Linked DNA regions of Homo sapiens. The protein of the gene in region 2 purifies or fractionates together with the protein of the main gene of each other region. This does not show direct contact. Each region holds a gene or a part of one and is shown on either strand. Other genes may lie near its edges.

Region 1 (3,650 bases), on a different chromosome or scaffold from region 2:
ACTCACTGGAATGTGCCTCCTTCAGCAGGTCTCAGACCCCACTGCTTCCTCACTGCTCTGCAGCCGCCTTATGTGTGTTCCCCTCCCCCATTCTTAACCTGATTAGTTCCAGTGTCCCATCGTGGTTGTACTGTTTTCCCTTTCCTCTCTCTTCTAGAAGAACCTCTCACATTGGTTAACCTAACTCAGATAGCTGAAAGTGCCTGGAGAAGAGCTGCAAAACTGTGCAGACTGATTCCATTTTAGATTCAAGTGCAGAGATCTTAAATGGACTATAATACCAGCAACCCTGCCATGTTGCTGTAGTCGCTTTGGTTCCCACCCTCCCTTCCGTTCCCACTCTCCCTTCTCTTCGAACTGTCACCATGCTTCTTACTTGCAGCCGATGACCTTTTTTCTTTCTTTCTTTTTTTTTTTTTTTTGACAGAGTCTCACTCTGTTGCCCAGGATGGAGTGCAATGGCACGATCTCGGCTCATTGCAACCTCCACTTCCTGGGTTCAAGCGATTCTCCTGCCTCAGCTTCCAGAGTAGCTGGGATTACAGGTGCCTGCCACCACACCCGGCTAATTTTTGTATTTTTAGTAGAGATGGGGTTTTACCATGCTGGTCAGGCTGGTCTTGAACTCCCAGCATCAGGCGATCTGCCTGCCTTGGCCTCCCAAAGTGCTGGGATTACAGGCGTGAGCCACCGTGCCCAGCTGATCTTGTTTCTTGTTTCACTTTTTTTTTTTTTTTTTTTTTGAGACAGGGTCTTACTTTGTCACCTAGGCTGGAGTGCCATGGCGTGATCCCGGCTCACTACAGCCTTGACCTTCCTGGTTCAAGTGATCCTCCTGTCTCATCCTCCCCAGTAGCTGGGATTACAGGCACACACCACCACACCCAGCTAATTTTTGTATTTCTGTAGAGATGAGGTTTCACCACGTTGCCCAGGCTGGTCTCGAACTCATGAGCTCAAGTGATCTGCCTGCCTTGGTGTCCCAAAGTGCCAAGATTACAGGTGTGAGCCACTGCACCCAGCCTGTTTCACTTCTAATCACTAAATCTGTGTCTTTGCTCAGCACCCATATTCTCTGCTATCCCTCTGAATGCCGTTCCTGCTTCTCCCTTAAACTCCAGGCTCATATATCTGTAAGAATTAAAGAAAGAGGAGAGAAACACGAAGGGTGACTTGACAGTCAACAGGTTTGTTTCCTGGGTAACGGCCAAACTTCACCCTCTTACAATGGGCCTCAGTATAACAGTGGGCCTTAATAAGGACATTCTGTTCCCTTCAGGTGCACTAAGGGAAGCTAAAAGCAGACTTGGGGGGTATGCCTGCAGCTGCAGAAAGTTGTATAGGAACAGACACACAACTCTCCCTCCCAGATAAGCACAACAGAGAGACACAGAAACAGTTCAAGCCTTTGATAAACTCTCCCACCCTGAATCCTTAAAAACTCTTAGTCTGTAGGAGAGTGTGGCTCTGACCTAACTCGGTCGGAAGTCCCTCCCAGGTTTGAAATAAACCTGTTGACTGTCGAGCCACCCTTCGTGTTTCTCTCCTCTCTCCTCTTTCTTTGGTTCTTACAATACCCACTGACCATTTCGGAACCTCCACTGGAATGTCTAACAGGCAGCTCAGACTTATAGCCAAAACAGAGCTCTTGGTTTGACCTCAAAACAGTCCTTCCCCAGGTTTTCGTTGACTCAGCAAATCACATACTCTTCGGCCAGCTGCTCAGATCCCAGGGTTCTTCCTTCCCTTCTTCCCCTCATGTCCCACAACTAACTGGTCTGCAGATTGTGCCTCTTCTGCCTTTTCCATCTGGACTCACAGCGCTCATGGCCCCTCTTGCTTATCCAAATGATGCTCATGGCTGGCGTGGCCTGAGCAGTACTCATCTCCCTCTTCCCACTCCCCTCCAGTCTTCTCTGTAGAGCAGGCAACATGCATATTAAAAAATGGACATCAGCAGCCGGGCGTGGTGGCTCACCCCTGTAATCCCAGCACTTTGGGAGGCAGAGGAGGGAGGATTGAGCCCAGGAGTTCAAGACCAGCCTGAGCAATGGTGAAATCCTGTCTCTGAAAAAACCAAGGCTGGGCGTGGTGGCTCATGCCTGTAATCCCAGCACTTTGGGAGGCCGAGGCAGGTGGATCACCTGAGGTCAGGAGTTCGAGACCAGCCTGGCCAACGTGGTAAAACCCCGTCTCTACTAAAAATACAAAAATTAGCTAGGCATGGTGGCGGGTGCCTGTAATCCCAGCTACTCGGGAGGCTGAAGCAGGAGAATTGCTGGAACCCCGGAGGTGGAGGTTGCAGTGAGCCAAGATTGTGCCATTCTACTCCAGCCCAAGCAACAACAGCGAGACTCTGTCTCAAAAACAAACAAACAAAAAAAAACCTCACCAAAAACCAAACAAATGAAAAAACCAGAAAACAAAAGACTTGGGGCATAGTGGCACACTCTGTAGGCCCAGCTACTCAGGAGGCTGAGGTGGGAGGACTGCTTGAGTCCAGGAGTTTGAGGCTGCAGTGAGCTATGATCATGTCACTGCACTCTAGCCTGGGCAACAGAGGGAAACTCTGTCTCAGGAAAAAAAAAAAAAAAAAAAAAGGACATCAGTGGTGTCAGTCCCCTCCTCCATACTCTCTCTGAGCCTCCTGTTACTGTCAGCCTAATGTCCAAGCCACTTACCAGCTCTGTAAGGCCCACCTGACCTGGCCCCGGCCCCCCATTGCCTGCTGCTGTCTGCCTCACCCCTAGCTACATCCCAATACCCCAAGACTGCAGAGCTCTTCAGCCTGAGGCCTGTGCACTAACAAAGCCATCTTCCCCAGATCCAGGTGCTCAATCTTTGCTGAAATGTCACATTCCCAGTGAGGCCATCAACCACTCTATCTAAAATAACCCCATACCCGTCTCCTTCAGGTTCTGTCCCTTTCCTTGCGCTGTTTTCTTCATGTCTGGAATCAATTTCCACTCCGTCCATGTTTTTGAGCCTGTACTGTGTGCCAGGCACTGGTCTAGGCACAGGGGAACACCTGTCAGGTGCTGTTGAGAAAAATCAAGCAGTACAAAGGGCTGAGAAGTGATGGGCCGACCTCTTAGAAAGGGTGGTCAGGGCAAGACTCTCTGAGGAGGTGACAGTTAGGCAGAGACCTGAATGAGACGTATCTGAAGGAAGGGCAGTGAGCCAGAGTTCACGAGGGCAGGCGTGTGCTTTGGGTGTTCAGTGGGTGTCCACAGGAACCACACAGTGGCCAGTGTGGCTCAGGTTTACAGAACAAATGGGAGTGTGTCAGAGGCCAAGTTGTCTAGGGCTTTGGGAGTTGAGCCTAAGGAGCCTGGCCTTCATCTGGAGGGCGCTGGAACCACAGGAGGGTCCCAAGCAGGAGGGGAATGCTCACTTGTTAAAAGTGTAGAAATTGGATTGAAGTGGAGAGAAAGGAGGTGGGGAGGCAGTGGCAGAAAAATGTAAGGTTACAGACTCAGAAGAGATCTGACTGAGTGTGGTGGCTCACGCCTATAATCCCAGCATTTTGGGAGGCCAAGGCGGGAGGATTGCATTACCCAGGAGTTTGGCAGCTTAGTAAGACCCTGTCTCCCTGTCTCTACTTAAAAAAAAAAAAAAAAAAATTACCTGGGTATGGTGGCATGCACCTA
Region 2 (3,650 bases):
TCCGGCTCAATTTTTTTTTTCTTTTTTTTTTGAGACAGAGTCTTGCTCTGTCACCCAGGCTGGAGTGCAGTGGCACAATCTCGGCTCACTGCACGCTCCACCTCCCAGGTTCAAGCAATTCTCCTGCCTCAGCCTCCCGAGTAGCTGAGATTACAGGCTTCCGCCACCACGCCCGGCTAATTTTTGTATTTTAGCAGAGACAGGGTTTCATCATGTTGGCCAGGGTGGTCTTAAACTCCTAACCTCAGGTGATCTGCCCACCTTGGCCTCCCAAAGTGCTGGGATTACAGGCATGAGCCACCGTGCCTGGCCCTCCAGTCATCTTAATATAATCCATAGTTTCTTCTTTTCTGGAATTTCTTTAAGGTCACTGAGGTCAAACTAGCTCAAAGAGACAGATACAGTAAATGAAAAAAACAACCCTGATATTTGGTTATATATTCACTCAACCAAGCATTAACTGAATACCTACAATGTGCAAGGTACTGTGAGAAGAACTACTGGGATACAAAGGTAGTTCAAGGCTGCCCTCAGAGCTTACAATCTAAAAACTGTAATACCAGGTGGGGAGTAACAAGTAATGTCTTGTGAAACTTTCAAGGTGAAAAAACGACATTAGGCTGGAGAAGTAGGCATCAAGCTAGTCTACATGGATAAAGCTGGTATCTAATCCGGGCTTTTTTTTTTTTTTTTTTGAGATAGGGTCTCACTCTGTTCCCAGGTTAGAATGCAGTGGTGGGACCATAGCTCTCTGCAGCCCTGACCTCCTGGAGTCAACCCATCCTCCCACCTCACCGCCCAAGTAGTTAGTTCTACAGGTCTGTGCCACCACACCTTGCTAATTTTATATTCCATTATGTTTTGTAGAAACACAGTCTTGCTACGTTGCCCAGTCTGATCTCGAACTCCTGGCCTAAAAGATCCTCCCGCCTCAGTCTCCCAAAGTGCTGGGATTAGAGGCATGAGCCATCATACTTGGCCTGATCTGGGCTTTGAAAGATGGGCAGACTGAGGACATAACCAAAGCAGGACAATTTCAAACCAACATGCAGGAAAATAAGGGACATTAATTTTATCTGCAGCCTAAGATTCATGAAGATACAGCCAATTACAGAGTAAAGGAAGAAACAAGAGGCTTTGACAGAGTCATTGTTGAGTCAAAGGAGTAGGGTAAAGAAAAGGACAGTTCTTAAGAGGAGATCTATGGTGTTCAGATTTTGCTGCTACATATTTATTCCTAGGCTACAGATATTCTGCAAAGACATCTGGTTGGTCCTCAAATAATCACATTTAATAATGTGGTCAATCAAAAGCAGCCTAAGCCAGGCACAGTGGCATATGCCTGTAATCCCAGCTACTTGGGAGGCTGAGGTAGAAGGATCACTTGAGCCCAGTATCTTAAGATCAGCCTGGACAGCATAGCAAGACCCCATCTCAAAAAAAAAAAAACAACACAGCCTTATCCTAAGACTCCAAAAAATGTCAGACTTCTAGCAACATTTAGCTAATTAAAAGTTATTTCTTCAAAACTACAAAAATCTATTACACTTCCCCACCATAAAGAACTTCCTTGTTCAGAAAACTTTATGAATTTAGGTAAAACAGTTAAAGCTTTACCTAACACCCAAAAAATCCATATATTAGAATTTTTATCTATTTTTGAAGTTTATCCCTTTAAGACACCAAAACATTAATTTAAATCTCAAAGTGGCTTTTTTATGTTGTTATTCTTTGCCTCCACTGAACCTCTCCCCTCCTCGGCTTTCCTGAAAGAATATTCCCCTAAGGTAGTCGCTATTCAAATATTTTTTAAAATTCCTTCTCAAAAGAAACCTTATTCGGAATGCCAACACATAACACTCAAAAGAGAGCTGCTCTGACTGAGGTAGACCTGTTTGTGTGATCTACTCCTCCAAAGCATCTCTGGGAACCCCCTGGGGCACCATGGAACACAGTTTGAAAACTACTGCTCCAAAACTTTCCCCTCCCTTATTTATGGCATGCTAGATAAGTACCACTAAAATTTGAAAAATTTCAACTTAGAACAAGTAAGAAGGACTTATTTCATTCTGCTTTTCAGAGGTAGTTTTACATACACCTGCAGTTCCCTCACTAAGAATGTAAGCCCTTTTGAGTATAGGCGCTACGATGGATCCCTCTGGCTCTTAGTCAAGGGCCCAGCACAATGCTTGCCACACAGCATGACTTTAACAGATAGCTGCTGAATTTAATCTAACTACATCACCCAGAAGATAATACACTTACAGAGCTTCCTGCTTAAAGTGGTTAGACGGAAACAGAAATTGATTTGTTAAAGGTTAATGAATAGCAGGACTACACAGAATACTCTCCATCTTTCAGGCTGACAACCACACTTATGTATCATACAGCCTTTGAGATTTCAGCTGGGAGAAAAACACCAGGCTGAAGGAGTGTAGCCTTGGATCCATGCAATCATTTCCACAAGTCTCTGCAGGATTTGGTTGCCATCTGCCATGAGGCCAGTCCAGGAGTTCTTTCATTCTGCTACACTAGCCTTGGTGTACTCATGAAATAACAACCAAAACACAAAGGACACATTAAAGGTAAGGATTCTGACGTGGGTAGTGCAGACCTTAAGCACTGGACCTAAAAGCTTTTTCATAAACTCACCCACACAGCTCACCGGGATGAAATCATTAGCTCTCCTGCCACATCACAATTATCCATACTTCCAACACTAGCACAAGTTAACTGGTAACTACCATGGCAGCAGCACAACTTACTTTCAGGAGAGCCTTCGCTTTCCAGTCGGAGTTTATTTAGGCGCTCTTCTTCCTAGAATTTAGACAAAAGTTTTCCAAGAACACAAGTTAGAATTCCCAGATGCTTGCAAAAGTCCATATGCTGGCTGAGTAATCTGACTCCCTCAAAGCCAACTCCTCCAGTTGGGGTCAGTGCATCATTGGGAGAATATTCTAGGTCATAGGGCCAAACGCCTGACTCCTGCTTACTAAGCAGCATTAGCATCACAGGTGCCCATCCATTGTTCACAAAATTAACCCAGTGAGCTGGCTTCCAAACTGACAAGTGACCTTGGAATCTTAAAGCTGGAAAGGACATCCAGAAGATCTGTCGCAGTCAGAGAAATAAAACAGAAGTTTAAGGCAGGAGGTAGACTGCTATTTTATTTTTCAAGACTTCTAGAATTTTAGTATAATTTTTCCAGAAGCTAAGATCATGTTTCCAACATCACTATGAACTCACGTTTAGCTTAACAGAGATACAGATGGATCCATACAGAAATATTTACAGGTGTATGTGTATGCATGGGTTACTATCCAAACATATATTTTCTTGTTCTGTCAGTGAAGAGAACTTAAAGGCAATGGCAACCTGGTAGCAATGAGCATACCCGGCACCCAGATCTTGGTTTCCAATGCTATTCCACAATAAGAACAGAGATGCTTGAAGAAATGGCTGTTCCAGGGCTGGAGCAGGAAACATACATGCAAGATAAGCCTGGAGCAGCTTATACTGCCAGAAAGTAAGGAAGTGCTCAAAAAAAAAAAAAAAAACAGTCCCATAATGATGGCGCTTTCTCAAAAAGATACAAAAGCCAAATGAAAGATGGGCAGGATGAGGACATAACCAAAGGCCAGTTAGTGCCA
Region 3 (3,650 bases), on a different chromosome or scaffold from region 2:
AGAACTGAAACGGCAAGAGTGGAAGCCTCTTTGCATAGCCCACATTAGCTCAGCACTCAGTACTCAGGCACACTTCTAGTTGCCAACAGTACAGGTTGCAAAAGGGAAATATAGACGTAACCAAAAATCAGACCTGCCAGGTATGGTCAAAGATCGAGAAAAAAGGACTCAAAATAAAAAATCAACTTAAGCAAATTAAAGACACTGAGCAGTGTTGGGAAGCATTCTTACAATTCTAAAGGCATCCTTGACATTTAATCTAATACCAAGAAAAGCCCAAAAAGTAGTTTATGAAGCAATGCTCAGATGTCTGCCCAGACTTGAGACTCGAGATTTCCCTTCCAAAAACCACCCATATGGACAGGTAAGGCGGCCAATTTTGCCTGACTCACTGCAGAATAGGAACTGTGACATTAACCTTGTACTACTTGGAAGCCATTTCATTTGCAAAGTTGTTGCCATCAGGGAAGAAAAGCATTTCAAATGGAAGGCAGTGACCCTGAAAGGGTCATCATCAATCACCTGAGGTCAAAGACCTTCCAAATTGTAAGAAGAGGCAGGGGATAAGGAAAAGAGGGCAGAGCAAAGATCAAAAGGCCTTTGATGGGGGCTACCTACCTACACAATAGGACCTGCAAAATGGAACTTCTCTGGAGTTTGAGACTTTCTGGCTTCTAAGGTGAGAGGTTTCAAGAAAGGTTTATCCTTTTTGTTTTTTTTAACTGGGGTAATTAATTTGAAGACTAGAGTCAGCAGATGGCAGAAGAGGCCCAGAGGCACAGGTTTCCATGTCTGCCAGTTTCACCGTCCACCTCAGCAGAGTACTAAATACTGTTTTCTTCATCTAGAGAGAGCATTAGTAGGGGAGAGGAGGGAAAACTCTGCCAGCTTTGCCGCTGCCAAATTATAAAGCAGCTGAGTTTGAACTGCCTTGTGATACTGTATTTTAACTGATGCAGAAACACTGTTTCCTTCTCGTAGAAGGCAATCCCCGAAAGAACAGTTGAGAAGTCTCCTTCGGCCAATGCCAGTGGAAAAGCAGTCAGGGTCTGTGGGATCCTTTCCATCAGTGATGACATACTCTCTGCTACTACTTCCATTGCTTAATGAACCTTAGATGGTTAAAGGAAAAGGTGGAGAAAGAAGGATTACCTGTTTCAGGCTGTCTCAGTGGGGGGAAACCTTGGCTAGAGGGGTGTGTGAATCAACTCCATTGGGTTGAGAGTCAGATGAAGAAAAGGGGCAACTTTAATTCAGGATGAAGCAGCAAAAGAGAGCTCTACTGAACCCTTCGTTATCTTTTTTGTGGTGTATTCCAGGAAAATCATGAATCCTGAGTAGGCTTTGTCCTGGTGGCAGAATACCTTTCCCTGTTAGCTGGAGAATAGAGTACTTCAAGGATGCAAACAATGTGAGCCTTTCAAAAATTCACGGAAGATGCTTATAAAAATAATTTATTATTTTAAGAAATAAAACATACAACAGAGCACTATAAATAATTTTCAGATTATGGGCTGTTTTGATTAGCCAAGCCCTAGATGCCTCCAGCCTACTCCCATTAGCATGGATAATTGAAAATCTGCTGTATTTCCATTTTAACGCAGTCTTGCTAATTCATGTCAGGCACTAAGATGAGAAACCAAACCTTTGAGTGTTATTTCACCTAACAGGTATTGAGCATGTGGCACTAACCTCTATACAGTCCAAAGAAGCCTTCATAGCGTAGCACTTTCTTAAAACAGTCAAAGCTGTTTTTATACATGAGTTCTCCCACAAAAGAGCCAGTTGATCGTTGGTTCTGCATTCGAGTTTTTACAAGATCGATAGGATACACAGCAGTGGCTCCAACAGCTAAAATTAAACAATATCATTATCTCAGAAGAAAGTAAGATAGGTCAGAAGAAAGAAGAAGGTAGTTAAAGTCAAGGACAAGACTGAGAAAAGAAATGTGTTTTGAATTTTAAATACAGATTTTAAAACAGTACTACCTTTCTTATATCTTTAATAAACAATTGAGGGTTTTCATTCAAGTATCCCCTAATAAAAGGATGTCATAGATATTTTAAATTAAGGCACATTGCTACAGCCCAACCTCATTAGTAACCTGTCTTTGGAAGGCCTGATCTGTAGATAGAGGAAAATGCCACTTGTAAGTCCCTGATCACATGCAGGTATGGGAAAAGAGTTCCCTTTACTCTTGCCCTACCTCACAGGTAGAAACTGATAACTGGCATTGGGAAAGACTAGAGAAGACTTTGTCCTTTAACATTTCAAGATGGAAAATCAGAGAAAAGAGAATAGGAATAACAAAAGTGAAAATTTTTCTCTCATCCATGACTAACCTCCAGCAACAGAACCCAGACCAAACCTGTAGGCCGACTCTGCAACTTGTAGAAGAACTGGTCGAGCTGAATCACCTGAGGCCTTCTGCTTTGCATGCACAGGAATCAGAGAGCAGGAAAACAGGTGACAGAAAAGAAGATAAAACAAAAATGACCATACATTAACTTTAAACATTACTCATTGGGTTCTAAATCCATGATACAACTAAAATGTCAAGGAAAAAAGTAGGAATGGATTTCATAAGTTCTTATTAATAAAAAGATTTTAGTGCTATTAATGTTTAAAACCAAATTTCAATATAATCAAAACCATCCTTTGACAAAAATGATGTTATAAGCCTATTTTCAAATTCTCATTAAAAAAAATGCACAGTTAAAAACATCACTGAGGCCAGGCACGGTGGCTCACGCCTGTAATCCCAGCACTTTGGGAGGCTGAGGCGGGCGGATTACCTGAGCACAGGAGTTCAAGACCAGCCTGGATAACATGGTGAAAGCCCATCTCTATAATATAACACAAAAATTAGACCAGCATGGTGGCATGTGCCTGTAGTCTCAGCTACTCAGGCTGAGGAGGGAGAATCACTTGAGCCCAGGGGGCAGAGGTTGCAGTGAGCTGAGATCACGCCACTGCACTTCAGCCTCGGCAACAGAGCAAGACTCTATCTCAAAAATAAAAATAGGTCGGGTACGGTGGCTCATGCCTGTAATCCCAGCACTTCAGGAGGCCGAGGTGGGTGGATCATGAGGTCAGGAGATTGAGACCATCCTGGCTAACATGGTGAAACCCCGTCTCTACTAAAAATACAAAAAAAAGAAAAAAATTAGCTGGGTGTGGTGGCAGGCGCCTGTAGTCCCAGCTACTTGGGAAGCTGAGGCAGGAGAATGGCGTGAACCCGTGAGGTGAAGCTTGCAGTGAGCCGAGATCGCGCCACTGCACTCCAGCCTGGGCAACAGAGTGAGACTGTATCAAAAAAATAAAATAAAATAAAGTAAATAAAGCAAATAAAAACATCAATGAGACATCATTTTTCATCAATCAAATTGGCAGGTTTTTGGTTTGTATGTATTTTTGTTTTTGTTTTAAGTGGCAATACCCAGCCTGGCAAAAGTTGATAACAAGCCTTCTGAAATTTGCCATTAAAGCAAGCATAAATAGAGAGATGTTTAGTAATATACACCCAAACCCTTAAAATGTACATAACCTCTGAAGTTAGAATAGGCTGGGTGCAGTGGCTCACACCTGTAATCCCAGCACTTTGGGAGGCCGAGGTGGGTGGATCACTTGAGGTCAGGAGTTCGAGACCA

Evidence for each region.
Region 1: the proteins of HACD3 (region 2) and ARMC9 purify together in Homo sapiens (co-immunoprecipitation; one large-scale study listed by IntAct). This does not show direct contact.
Region 3: the proteins of HACD3 (region 2) and SLC25A13 fractionate together in Homo sapiens (co-fractionation; one large-scale study listed by BioGRID). This does not show direct contact.

Annotation. Positions count from the first base shown.
Region 1 is NC_000002.12:231,201,598-231,205,247, forward strand, and holds part of ARMC9 (lisH domain-containing protein ARMC9), read left to right. Parts: intron 1-3,650. UniProt on the Homo sapiens protein: Involved in ciliogenesis. It is required for appropriate acetylation and polyglutamylation of ciliary microtubules, and regulation of cilium length. Acts as a positive regulator of hedgehog (Hh)signaling.
Region 2 is NC_000015.10:65,557,847-65,561,496, reverse strand, and holds part of HACD3 (very-long-chain (3R)-3-hydroxyacyl-CoA dehydratase 3), read right to left. Parts: intron 2,818-3,650; coding exon 2,766-2,817; intron 1-2,765. UniProt on the Homo sapiens protein: Catalyzes the third of the four reactions of the long-chain fatty acids elongation cycle. This endoplasmic reticulum-bound enzymatic process, allows the addition of two carbons to the chain of long- and very long-chain fatty acids/VLCFAs per cycle.
Region 3 is NC_000007.14:96,182,585-96,186,234, forward strand, and holds part of SLC25A13 (electrogenic aspartate/glutamate antiporter SLC25A13, mitochondrial), read right to left. Parts: intron 2,431-3,650; coding exon of another isoform or gene 2,428-2,430; coding exon 2,343-2,427; intron 1,852-2,342; coding exon 1,693-1,851; intron 1-1,692. UniProt on the Homo sapiens protein: Mitochondrial electrogenic aspartate/glutamate antiporter that favors efflux of aspartate and entry of glutamate and proton within the mitochondria as part of the malate-aspartate shuttle.